Linked DNA regions of Homo sapiens. The protein of the gene in region 1 purifies or fractionates together with the protein of each later gene. This does not show direct contact. Each region holds a gene or a part of one and is shown in the gene's direction. Other genes may lie near its edges.

Region 1 (3,752 bases):
TTATTTACAGATTGAGTTCTGTGATTTGTTCCCAATTTAAATTTAAAACGATAGTTGGGGCCGGGCGCGGTGGCTCACGCCTGTAATCCCAGCACTTTGGGAGGCCGAGGCGGGTGGATCACGAGGTCAGGAGATCGAGACCATCCTGGCTAACACGGTGAAACCCCGTCTCTACTAAAAATACAAAAAATTAGCCGGGCGAGGTGGCGGGCGCCTGTAGTCCCGGCTACTCGGGAGGCTGAGGCAGGAGAATGGCGTGAACCCCAGGGGGCGGAGCCTGCAGTGAGCCGAGATTGCGCCACTGCACTCCAGCGTGGGCGACAGAGCGAGACTCCGTCTCAAAAAAAAAAAAAAACGATAGTTGGAATGTAAGTTATAACAAACTCCTGAATTGGCAGTTTTGTTTTATTGAAATGCAGTTGAGTGTTTTTTTCACGTGCCTATATTTGAAGAGTCTACAGCTGCCTGCTGTCTTGTGGCTAAATATAATGTCATATAAATGGAACATTTTCCCCTACTTGTGGCTTACTCACCATACTACTTTCCACATTTTTGTTGCTCAGTTTCTAAGATGATTGGCAATTATACTTTTTTAAAAATCTGTGGTACAAAAAGTGTAAAATGTAAAAATGTTTCTTGCTATACTCCTCATGAAGTCTCCCTTGCATTTGCGAATGTGGGTGAAGTGCCCATGCTTTGGGGTCGTCCACTTAGGACTGTGGCAATATTTTAGAGAACTGTTTCTTTCCTGATGCTTTGGAGCACTGTGAAGTCAGTGGAGGAAGAAGCATTAGTCAGAAAATTGAAGAAAATTAAGGAAAAGTAGATGTTCATAATGAGAAAAAAAAAACACCCTTGTATTAGGGATTTATTCCAAAAAGTAGTTTTGAGACCTAAGTGTATCTGTCTGTGTACCAAATTGCACTGCGTACAGTGTTTTGGGATGCGGAATGAGGCTTCTGAAACACTGGAAACCCCTCTCCCTTCAAGGGGTTAGCATTCAGGTTGGCATGCCATTTAGCGGAAGAGTGAACTTCATAGGTGGGGAGGCAAGATTTTCATCAGTTCTGATGCTGGTACTTAATCATGTTGACTTTACCATAGAATGTAGAACTTTCCATTTCCCAAGCATTTGAGTCATTAAGGTTTTTCTCTGAATTACAGAAGTGAACAACATGGACAGTTCACCCTAAAAGGGTTATTGGTGGTTGACATTGGTACAGCAAGGGCAGAGCTGGGAAAAGTTAACCAAGCACACATTTGCTTATGTTGGTGCCTTCCAACTCTTGGAAAAAAAAAAAAAAATGCTGGGTTAAACCATATGAAATTGCCAATATTCGATTATCTTTGATCTAAAATAAATGGAAATTTCATGTGGCCCCAATTAATAGGTTAGTGGTTTGGGTTTTAAATGTACACATTCAAATATAAGATAATTATGCTACTTTTTTAGATCAGGCTAAATGAAGATACAATCCAAGATGTTGTTCAGGCAGCTGACCTGCTGCTACTGACGGACCTTAAAACCCTGTGCTGTGAGTTTTTGGAAGGCTGCATTGCTGCTGAGAACTGTATTGGTATCCGTGACTTTGCACTACATTACTGCCTCCATCACGTTCATTACCTTGCCACAGAATACCTGGAGACTCATTTCCGAGACGTCAGCAGCACGGAAGAATTCTTAGAGCTGAGTCCTCAAAAGCTTAAAGAAGTGATTTCTCTTGAGAAGTTAAACGTTGGCAATGAAAGATATGTCTTTGAAGCAGTAATTCGATGGATAGCACATGATACAGAAATAAGAAAGGTACCTGTCATTTATAACATGGTCAAATTTGCCTTTTTATTTCTTTTTAATTCAAATTTTAGTTGTTTTATTTTTCTTCTTCATCATGAAAGACTTACGATGCAGCAATCTAAAAGATACCTGTAAAACATGTTCCCCTATATCATGAAAGCAGTTGGTTTTTCAGACCAGTCTGCAAAAGCCCATGCCACACAATATATCAGTGAAAATATTAGCCCTTGTAAGGAGCGTAATATCCTTTGTATGTTGTTTTTAATGGGAAAATGCATTTCAAGCTTAAGCTGGAGATTATAGAAACGCAGTATCCCCACCCTTGCTCTCAGCATCCTGACCTACTATATCACTAGGCTAACCTCTGCCAGGCCTCAGGTGCCTGCAGCAGGCAGGGGGGTGGCACGTGGATCGATGGCAGGGGTGGAGGGGCATGGGCCTGAGGAGCTTCAGGTGTGATTGACACCACGCAGGAGAAAGCAGGCAGGCTCTGGAGTTTGTGTGGCAGTGCAGTTTCAAGAGGGAAGGTTCTGGGAGTGAAGGTCTTAAAGAATATCAGCCTCTAGATCCAAATTGTGAATACCTTGGAGGAAGGAGCAAAATCACAGGACTTGAGGGTTTTGAGGGGGCAGAGAGTCTCAGTCTGTCTCCCAGGCTGAAGGGCAGTAGCCAGAGTGGCACGATCATAGCTCACTGCAGTCCCAACCTTCCTGGCTGAAGTGATCTTCCCACCTCAGCCTCCGAGTAGCTAGGACCACAGGCGTGTGCCACCATGCCTAGCTAATTGTTTGATTTTTGTAGAGACAGGGTCTCGCTGTGCTGCCCAGGCTGGTCTCAAACTCCTGTGCTCAAGCAATCCTCCCACTCTAGCTTCCCAAAGTGCTGGGATTACAAGTGTGAACCACCATGCCCAGCCAGGACTTCATTTTTAAGTCTGATTATTATAAATAAGACACTAGCTCCAATTACTGTTTTCAAAATAAGAAATATATTAGGTGTTAGAGAGTGGATCTCACAATGTATAATTTTACTGTTAATTGTTCTTGTAAGTTAAAACTGGACTGTTAAATTTTGATGATTATCTTATAATTTTTTGAATTCTGTAAGCCCATAAGTATGCATGTTTAGAAACCATATTTGTAGTATTGGTTTTAATTGGGACAGGTAAGGACAGGTAGTGTTCTGCTTTCCATGTTAGTTGGGGAAATTGGTAAAGGAGATAGAAAAATGAGAAAAATTTCCTATGTGCTCCCACTCACCAAGACCACAGTGGGACATGCTGCTCCTTGCCAGCTTCCGTCCTGCCCTCTTCTTGCCTTAAAGCAAGGGAGATGCTTAAGGTTGGCTGGTTGCTGGGAAAACGAGGCAGTTCTTTGTCCTTTGGTCAGTTTAAACTTCATGCTGTAAAGACAGTTGATTTTTAAAACTCACAGTTTTATTTTACATTTATAAAATACTTTCGTCAGTTCAAATTTAGTGATTGAGCAGTAAAAGTGTAAATTCATATTAGTCGTCTTAGATATTTTTGAACAGTAATTACTGCAAAAATGATTATATAGTACTCAGGTTTTTTTTTAAACTTTGGCTTTTGTATATTTTTCTTGTATTATTAATGTTGATGTCTAAGTTTACCATATTGTATTGAGCTATTACTGTATATAATATTTGTATAAACATGATTTAACTCATGGCACATCCAAATGTGTGAAATAAAGCAAATTATAGCTGGTTCTTTTCCTGTCTTTTCCTATTGAAATGGGAATCCTTTAAGGTGTAAAGGAAGCTGCTTGAAACTTTTACAGTGATACCTCAAATAAACTGATGATTTTTAAAAATTAAACTTTTACTTATCAAGACTCTGGGAAGTAGACAGTTAGGGCCAGGAGAAGATATTCAAGCAGCACGAGTGTGTCTCACTTGCCTGGTAATAACCTGAGTGTTAACAGTTTGTTTTCCA
Region 2 (3,752 bases), on another chromosome or scaffold:
AAAAGTTAATGACAAGATAAAGTTTCTCATTCTGACTTTGTGAAGGGGAGAGTGGTTACAATTATAGACTAAGAAAAGACTGAATATAATCCAGTGTAAATTCTTTAATGACATAATAGCATAGCAAAAATCACTATTTTTCACTAGTTTTTTTCTCTCTCCCCTTTCCCGCAACTCTCTTCCAGACCCAGCAACCTAAAGAAGATGGAGTTTATGTTTTTCATCCCCATAGTCAGCCAGTTAGCTGTCTTTACTTCTCACCCGCCAATCCGGCCCACATACTGTCACTGAGCTATGATGGCACGTTACGCTGTGGGGATTTTTCCAGGGCTATTTTTGAAGAGGTAAATGTTAATGTGTTTACATGCTGACTTCAGATGATATTCTAGATTCTTCGAAATGCCACATGAATAATTATTATACCAATTGGGAGAAGTGGTATAGCAGAAGGACTTTGAGAACTACGCTGCCTAAGTTCAAATCCCAGATCATCTGTTACTAGTTGTATGACCTTGACAAGTTGCTTAACCTTGTTGTGCCTCACTTTCCTTAGCTGTGAAATGGGATTTAACAGGACTGACCTTACAGGGTTGTCATGAGAATTTAATGAGCTTATGCAGATAAAGTACTTAGAAGAGAGCCTGGCACATAGTATGTGTTTGCGCTTGTTAAATTTCTTTTTTTTTTCTCTCCCAAAGCTTTTAACTAAAATAACTTACTCTTCTGTTTTTAGGCATAAGACTTGTATTTAGCTGGGTGTGGTGGCTCATGCTTGTAATCTCAGCACTTTGGGAAGCCAAGGTGGGAGACTCACTTCAGGCCAGGAGTTCCAGACCAGCCTGGGCAACATGGCGAGACCTTGTCTCTACAGAAAATAAAAAATATTAGCTGAGCTTGGTGGTGTGTGCCTGTAGTCTCAGCTACTCAGGAGGCTGAGGTGGGAGAATCACTTGAGCCCAGGAGTTCAAGATCAGCCTGGGCAACATAGTAAGACCTTGTCTCTAAAAAAAATTAGCTTGGTGTGGTGGCATGTGCCTGTAGTCACAGCTACTCAGGAGGCTGAGGTGTGAGGATTGCTTGAGCCCAGGAGATTGAGGCTGTAGTAAAGCCGTGATCACATACATCATTGCACTTCAGCCTGGGTGACAGAGTGAGACCCTCTCTCAAAATAAGACATCTTCTACTTAATGTTTAAAACAAACATATCATTTGAAATGAACTTTCAGATTTGCTTAACTGTATCAGATTGCCTCAATAAGATAAGTCTTATAAGTTGAACTTTTTTATTTTATTTTTTTTGAGACGGAGTTTTACTCTCGTCACCTAGGCTGGAGTGCAGTGGCGAGATCTCGGCTCACTGCAACTTCTGCCTCCCAGGTTCAAGCAATTCTTCTGCCTCAGCCTCCTGAGTAGCAGGGATTACAGGCACCCATCATCACGCCCGGGTAATTTGTTGTTGTTGTTGTTGTCGTCGTTGTTGTTGTTGTAGAGATGGAGTCTCACTCTGTCGCCCAGGCTGGAGTGCAGTGGTGCGATCTTGGCTCACTGCAAGCTCCGCCTCCCAGGTTCAAGTGATTCTCCTGTCTCAGCCTCCTGAGTAGCTGGGACTACAGGCGCATGCCACCATGCCAAGCTAATTTTTGTATTTTTAGTAGGGACGGGGTTTCACCATGTTGACCAGGCTGGTCTCGAACTCCTGACCTTGTAATCCACCTGCCTCAGCCTCCCAAAGTGCTGGGATTACAGCGTGAGCCACTGTGTGTGGTCAGATTTGCCTCTTCTGGACATTTCATATAAATGAAATCATACAATTTGTGGTCTTTTGTGACTGGTTTCTTTAACAAAATGTATTCAAAGTTCATCCATGTTGTAGCCGTGTATCAGTACTTCATTCCTTTTTATGGCTGCATAATATGCCATTGTATGGGTATTCCACATTTTATTCATCTGTTCATCAGTTGATGAACATTTGTGTTTCTATTCTTTCTTTATATATTTATTTTTGAAACAGAGTCTCGCTCTTGTTGCCCAGGCTGCAGTGCAGCAGTGCAATCTTGGCTCACTGCAACTTCCACCTCCCGGGTTCAAGCAATTCTCCTGCCTCATCCTCCTGAGTAGCTGGGATTACAGGCACGTGCCACCACACCTGGCTAATTTTTGTATTTTTAGTAGAGACAGGGTTTCCCCATGTTGGCCAGGCTGGTCTTGAACTCCTGACCTCAGGTGATCCACCCACCTTGGCCTCCCAAAGTCTTGGGATTACAGGTGTGAGCCACCACGCCTGGCCTTACTTATTTTTATTTTTTGAGATGGGGGTCTCACTCTGTCACTCCAGCTGGAGTGAAGTGGCTTGATCTCGGCTCACCGCAGCCTCTGCCTCCCAGGCTCACGTGATCCTCCCACCTAAGCCTCCTGAGTAGCTGGAACTATAGTCATGTGTCACCATGCTTGGCTAATTTTTGTATTTTTAGTAGAGACGGTGTTTTGCCATGTTGCCCAGGCTGGTCTCAAACTCCTGAGCTCAAGTGATCTGCCCACCTTGGCCTTCCAAAGTGCTGGTATTACAGGCATGAGCCACCGCGCCTGGCTGTAACTTACATTTCAATAAGCTTGACTTTAAAACAATAGGTGGAGAACTCCTATAGCTTAATTAAAAAAGCTAACCCAATTAAAAAATGGGCAAAGGATCTGAATAAACATTTCTTTAAAGAAACACAAATGGCACCGGGTGCGGTGGCTCACCCCTGTAATCCCAGAACTTTGGGAGGCTGAGGCGGGTGGATCACCTGAGGTCAGGAATTTGAGACCAGCCTGGCCAACATGGTGAAACCCCATCTCTACTAAAAATACAAAAATTAGCCAGGCGCGGTGGCAGGCACCTGTAGTCCCAGCTACTGGGGACGCTGAGGCAGGAGAATCGCTTGAACCCGGGAGGTGGAGTTTGCAGTGAGGTGAGATTGCACCACTGCACTCCAGCCTGGGCGACAGAGCGAGACTGTCTCAAAAAAAAAAAACAAAAAAAAACAAAAAAACCCCACAAATGGCAAATAAGCACATGAAAAGATTCTAAGCATCATTATTCATTAGGGAAATGCAAATCACAATGAGATACCCCTTTACACTCACTAGGATAACGATACTTGCCAGTAATAAGTGTTGACAATGATGTGGAAAAATTGAAACCCTCATATTTTGAGAATTGGTATGTGAAATGGTAAAGTTGGTTGGGGAAAGTTTGACAGTTCCTTAAATGTTAAACAGAGTTACCATATGACCTAGCAATATCCCTCCTAGGTATACACCCAAGAGAAATGAAAGCACATGTCCACACAAAAACTTGTACGGGAATGTTCATACAAGCATTATTTGCAATAATACAAAGAATAGGTTGGGCATGGTAGCTCACACCTGTAATCTCAGCACTGACAGAGGCCGAGGAGGGTGGATCACTAGAGCTCAGGAGTTCAAGACCAGCCTGGCCAACATAGTGAAACCGCACCTCTAAAAGAATACAAAAATTAGCTGGGCGTGGTAGCATGCGCCTGTGGTCCCAGCTACTTGGGAGGCCTGAGGCATGAGAATCACTTGAACCTGGAAGGGTGAGGCTCCAGTAAGCCGAGATTGCATCACTGCGCTCCAGTCTGGGTGACAGAGGGAGACTCTCAAAAAAAGTTACATATGGTACAATTTACCACTTTAGGTATATAATTCTCTGAGTTTTGGTGAATTGTGTACACATGTGTAACTATCGT
Region 3 (3,752 bases), on another chromosome or scaffold:
GTAGACATTCTCCCCTTTTATACTTACTGTACCTAAAGAAACTGTTTAGAGGTTAAATTTCCCCATGGATTCACAGGCAGAAAAGTGCAGCATCAATTCACATTGAAGTCTGTGATCTCAAAACCTGAGCCTTTTTTTTTTTTGAGACGGAGTCTCGTTCTGTCACCCAGGCTGGAGTGCAGTGGCGCGATCTTGGCTCACTGCAAACTCCGCCTCCCAGGTTCACGCCATTCTCCTGTCTCAGCCTCCCGAGTAGCTGGGACTACAGGCACCCGTCACCACGCCTGGCTAATTATTTTAATAGAAATGGGGTTTCACCATGTTAGCCAGGATGGTCTTGATCTCCTGACCTCATGATCCGCCTGCCTCGGCCTCCCAAAGTGCTGGGATTACAGGTGTGAGCCACAGCGCCCGGCCTTTTTTTAAAAAATATACTTAGTAACAGCTTTATTGAGATATAAGTTACCCATTTGAAATGTATAATTCAGGCACACTGGCTCACACATGTAATCCCAGCACTTTGGGAGGCCAAGGCAGGTGGATCACTTGAGGTTAAGAGTTTGAGACCAGCCTGGCTAACATGGTGAAACCCTGTCTGTGCTAAAAATGCAAAATTTAGCTGGGCATGGTGATGCGTGCCTGTAATCCTAGCTACTCAGGAGGCTGAGGCAGGAGAATTGTTTGAACCAGGGAGGCGGAGGTTGCAGTAAGCTGAGATTCCACCACTGGGCAACAGGGCAAGACTTTACCTCCCAAAAAAAAAAAAAAAAGCGACTACACCAATTTTTTCTTGTTTTTTTTTTTTTCTGAGATGGAGTCTCACTCTGTCCTTGACTGGGCTGGGTATAGTGGCGCCATCTCGGCTCACTAGCTTCCACCTCCCAGGTTCAGGCAATTTTGCTGCGTCAGCCTTCCGAGTAGCTGGGATTACAAGCATGTGTAACCACGCCCAGCTAATTTTTGTATTTTTAGTAGAGACAGGGTTTCACCATGTTGGCCAGGCTGGTCTGGAACTCCTGACCTTGTGTCCACTGGCCTCAGCCTCCCAAAGTGCTGGGATTACAGGTGTGAGCCACCGCATCTGGCCAACTACACCAATTTAACATGCCCACCAGCAGTTTCAAGTTGTCTATATCCTTACCTATACTTGTTATCTGTCTTTTTTAGATATAACTTATTAGATATAAAGTGGTTTCTCATTGTGGCTTTGATTGGAATTTCCTTCACAGCTAGTATGATATGGAGCAACTTTTTATGTGGTTCTTGGCCATTTGCATATATTCTTTTTTTTGGGAGATAGTTTCACTCTTGTTGCCCATGCTGTGGTGCAGTGGTGCAATCTCGGCTCACTGCAACCCCCACCTCCTGGGTTTAGTAGTTCACCTGCCTCAACCTCCCAAGTAGCTGGGATTACAGGCATGCACCACCATGCCTGGCTAGTTTTGTATTTTTAGTAGAGACGGGGTTTCACCATGTCGGTCAGGCTGGTCTCAAACTCCTGACCTCAGGTGATCCACCCACCTTGGCCTCCCACAGAGCTGGGATTACAGGCATGAGCAACTGTGCCTGGCCTCATTTTCTGCCTTCTTGTTTTCTACCTTTCTAATTCCTACTTGTGGTTAGGGTAATTTATCTATGTGTCTGATGGTAAAAGCTGTTTTTTAAAAGTTGCATACTATGTATTTTTTTCTTTTCATGCTCTTTTGCATGCTGACATAATAATAAGACAGTAACTGTATTGTTATCAGAAACATGTCATCCAGGTTATGGTAATATTGCTCAGATTAAATTATTGGGATTCTGTTTATTTAAATGCCTTTCCCATTAAACATATGTTAAGTAAGCACTCTAAAGCAGTGGTCCCCAACGTTTTTTGCACCAGGGACTCGTTTTGTGGAAGACAGTTTTCCACAGACATTGATGGGGGTGGTGCTTTGGGATGAAACTGTTTCACCTCACATCATTAGGTGTTAGATTTTTTTTTTTTTTTTTTTTTTTTTTTTTTTTTAAGATGGAGGCTCACTCTGTCACCCAGGCTGTGATGCAGTGGTGCTCTCTCTGCTCACTTCAACTTCCGCCTCCTGGGTTCAAGCTATTCTGCCTCAGCCTCTCAGGTAATTGGGATTACAGGCATGCACCACCATGCCTGGATAATTTTTTATATTTTTAGTAGAAGTAGAGGTGGGGTTTCACCATGTTGGCCAGGCTGGTCTTGAACTCCTGGCCTCAAGTGATCTGCCCTCCTCAGCCTCCCAAAGTACTGGGATTACAGGTGTGAGCCAATGCACCTGGCCAGGCATTAGATTCTAATAAGGAGCATGCAGCCTAGATACCTCACATTTGCAGTTCACGATAGGGTTTGTGCTCCTACAAGAGTCTAATGCCACCATTGATCTGACAGGAGGTGGAGCTCAGGTGGTAATGCTCACCTCTGTGCTGTGTCGTTCGCCTACGGACCAGTACTAGTCCTTGGCCCCAGGGTTGGGGACTTCTGCCCAAAAAATCAGGCTGGGGGCTGGGTATGGTGGCTCACGCCTATAATCCCAGCACTTTGGGAGGCCAAGGCTGGTGGATCACCTGAGGTCAGGAGTTTTGGACCAGCCTGGCCAACATGGTGAAACCCCGTCTCTACTAAAAATACAAAAATTAGGGCTGGGTGTGGTGGCTCACACCTGTAATCCCAGCACTTTGGGAGGCCAAGGCAGGCAGATCACGAGGTCAGGAGATCAAGACCATCCTGGCTAACACGGTGAAACCCTGTCTCTAATAACAATACAAAAAATTAGCCAGTCGTGGTGGCGGGTGCCTGTGGTCCCAGCTACTTGGGAGGCTGAGGCAGGAGAATGGCATGAACCTGGGAGGCGGAGCTTGCAGTGAGCTGAGATCACACCACTGCACTCCAGCCTGGGCGACAGAGCGAGACTTGGTCTCAAAAACATATATATGTATATATAAATTAGGTCTGGGCGTGGTGGCTCACGCCTGTAATCCCAGCACTTTGGGAGGCCGAGGTGGGCGGATCATGAGGTCAGGAGATCAAGACCATCCTGGCTAACACGGTGAAACCCTGTCTCTACTAAAAATAAAAAAATCAGCCGGGCGTGGTGGCACGCACCTGTAGTCCCAGCTACTCGGGAGGCTGACACAGGAGAATCGCTTGAACCGGGGAAGTGGAGGTTGTAGTGAGCCGAGATCGCACCACTGCACTCTAGCCTGGGCGATAGAGCGAGACTCCGTCTCAAAAAAAAAAAAAAAAAGTTAGCTGGATGTGATGGCAGGCACATGTAATCCCAGCTACTTGGGAGGCTAAGGCAGGAGAATAGCTTGAATCCGGGATGCAGAGGTTACGGTGAGCCGTGACTACCATATCACTCCAGCCTGGGGAACGAGCGAAACTCCATCTCAGAAAATAAATAAATAAGGCTAGGCATGGTGGCTCAAGCCTGTAATCCCAGCACTTTGGGAGGCCAAGGTGAGCGGATCACAAGGTCAAGAGATCGAGACCATCCTGGCCAACCAACATGGTGAAACCTCGTCTCTACTAAAAATACAGAAATTAGCTGGGGGTGGTGGCATGCGTCTGTAGTCCCAGCTACTCAGGAGGCTGAGGCAGGAGAATAGCTTGAACCCAGGAGGCGGAGGTTGCAGTGAGCTGAGATCATACTACTGCACTCCAGCCTGGTAACAGCGAGACTCTGTCTAAAAAAAAAAAAAAAAAATTAGCTGGGTGTGGTGGTGGTGTTCCTGTAGTT

What was found.
Region 2: the proteins of GAN (region 1) and WDR76 purify together in Homo sapiens (affinity purification with mass spectrometry; 3 studies listed by BioGRID and IntAct, with this or other methods). This does not show direct contact.
Region 3: the proteins of GAN (region 1) and QRICH1 purify together in Homo sapiens (affinity purification with mass spectrometry; 2 studies listed by BioGRID and IntAct, with this or other methods). This does not show direct contact.

What each region holds. Positions count from the first base shown.
Region 1 is NC_000016.10:81,352,952-81,356,703, forward strand, and holds part of GAN (gigaxonin), read left to right. Parts: intron 1-1,453; coding exon 1,454-1,804; intron 1,805-3,752. UniProt on the Homo sapiens protein: Probable cytoskeletal component that directly or indirectly plays an important role in neurofilament architecture.
Region 2 is NC_000015.10:43,850,902-43,854,653, forward strand, and holds part of WDR76 (WD repeat-containing protein 76), read left to right. Parts: intron 1-185; coding exon 186-344; intron 345-3,752. UniProt on the Homo sapiens protein: Specifically binds 5-hydroxymethylcytosine (5hmC), suggesting that it acts as a specific reader of 5hmC.
Region 3 is NC_000003.12:49,059,391-49,063,142, reverse strand, and holds part of QRICH1 (transcriptional regulator QRICH1), read left to right. Parts: intron 1-3,752. UniProt on the Homo sapiens protein: Transcriptional regulator that acts as a mediator of the integrated stress response (ISR) through transcriptional control of protein homeostasis under conditions of ER stress.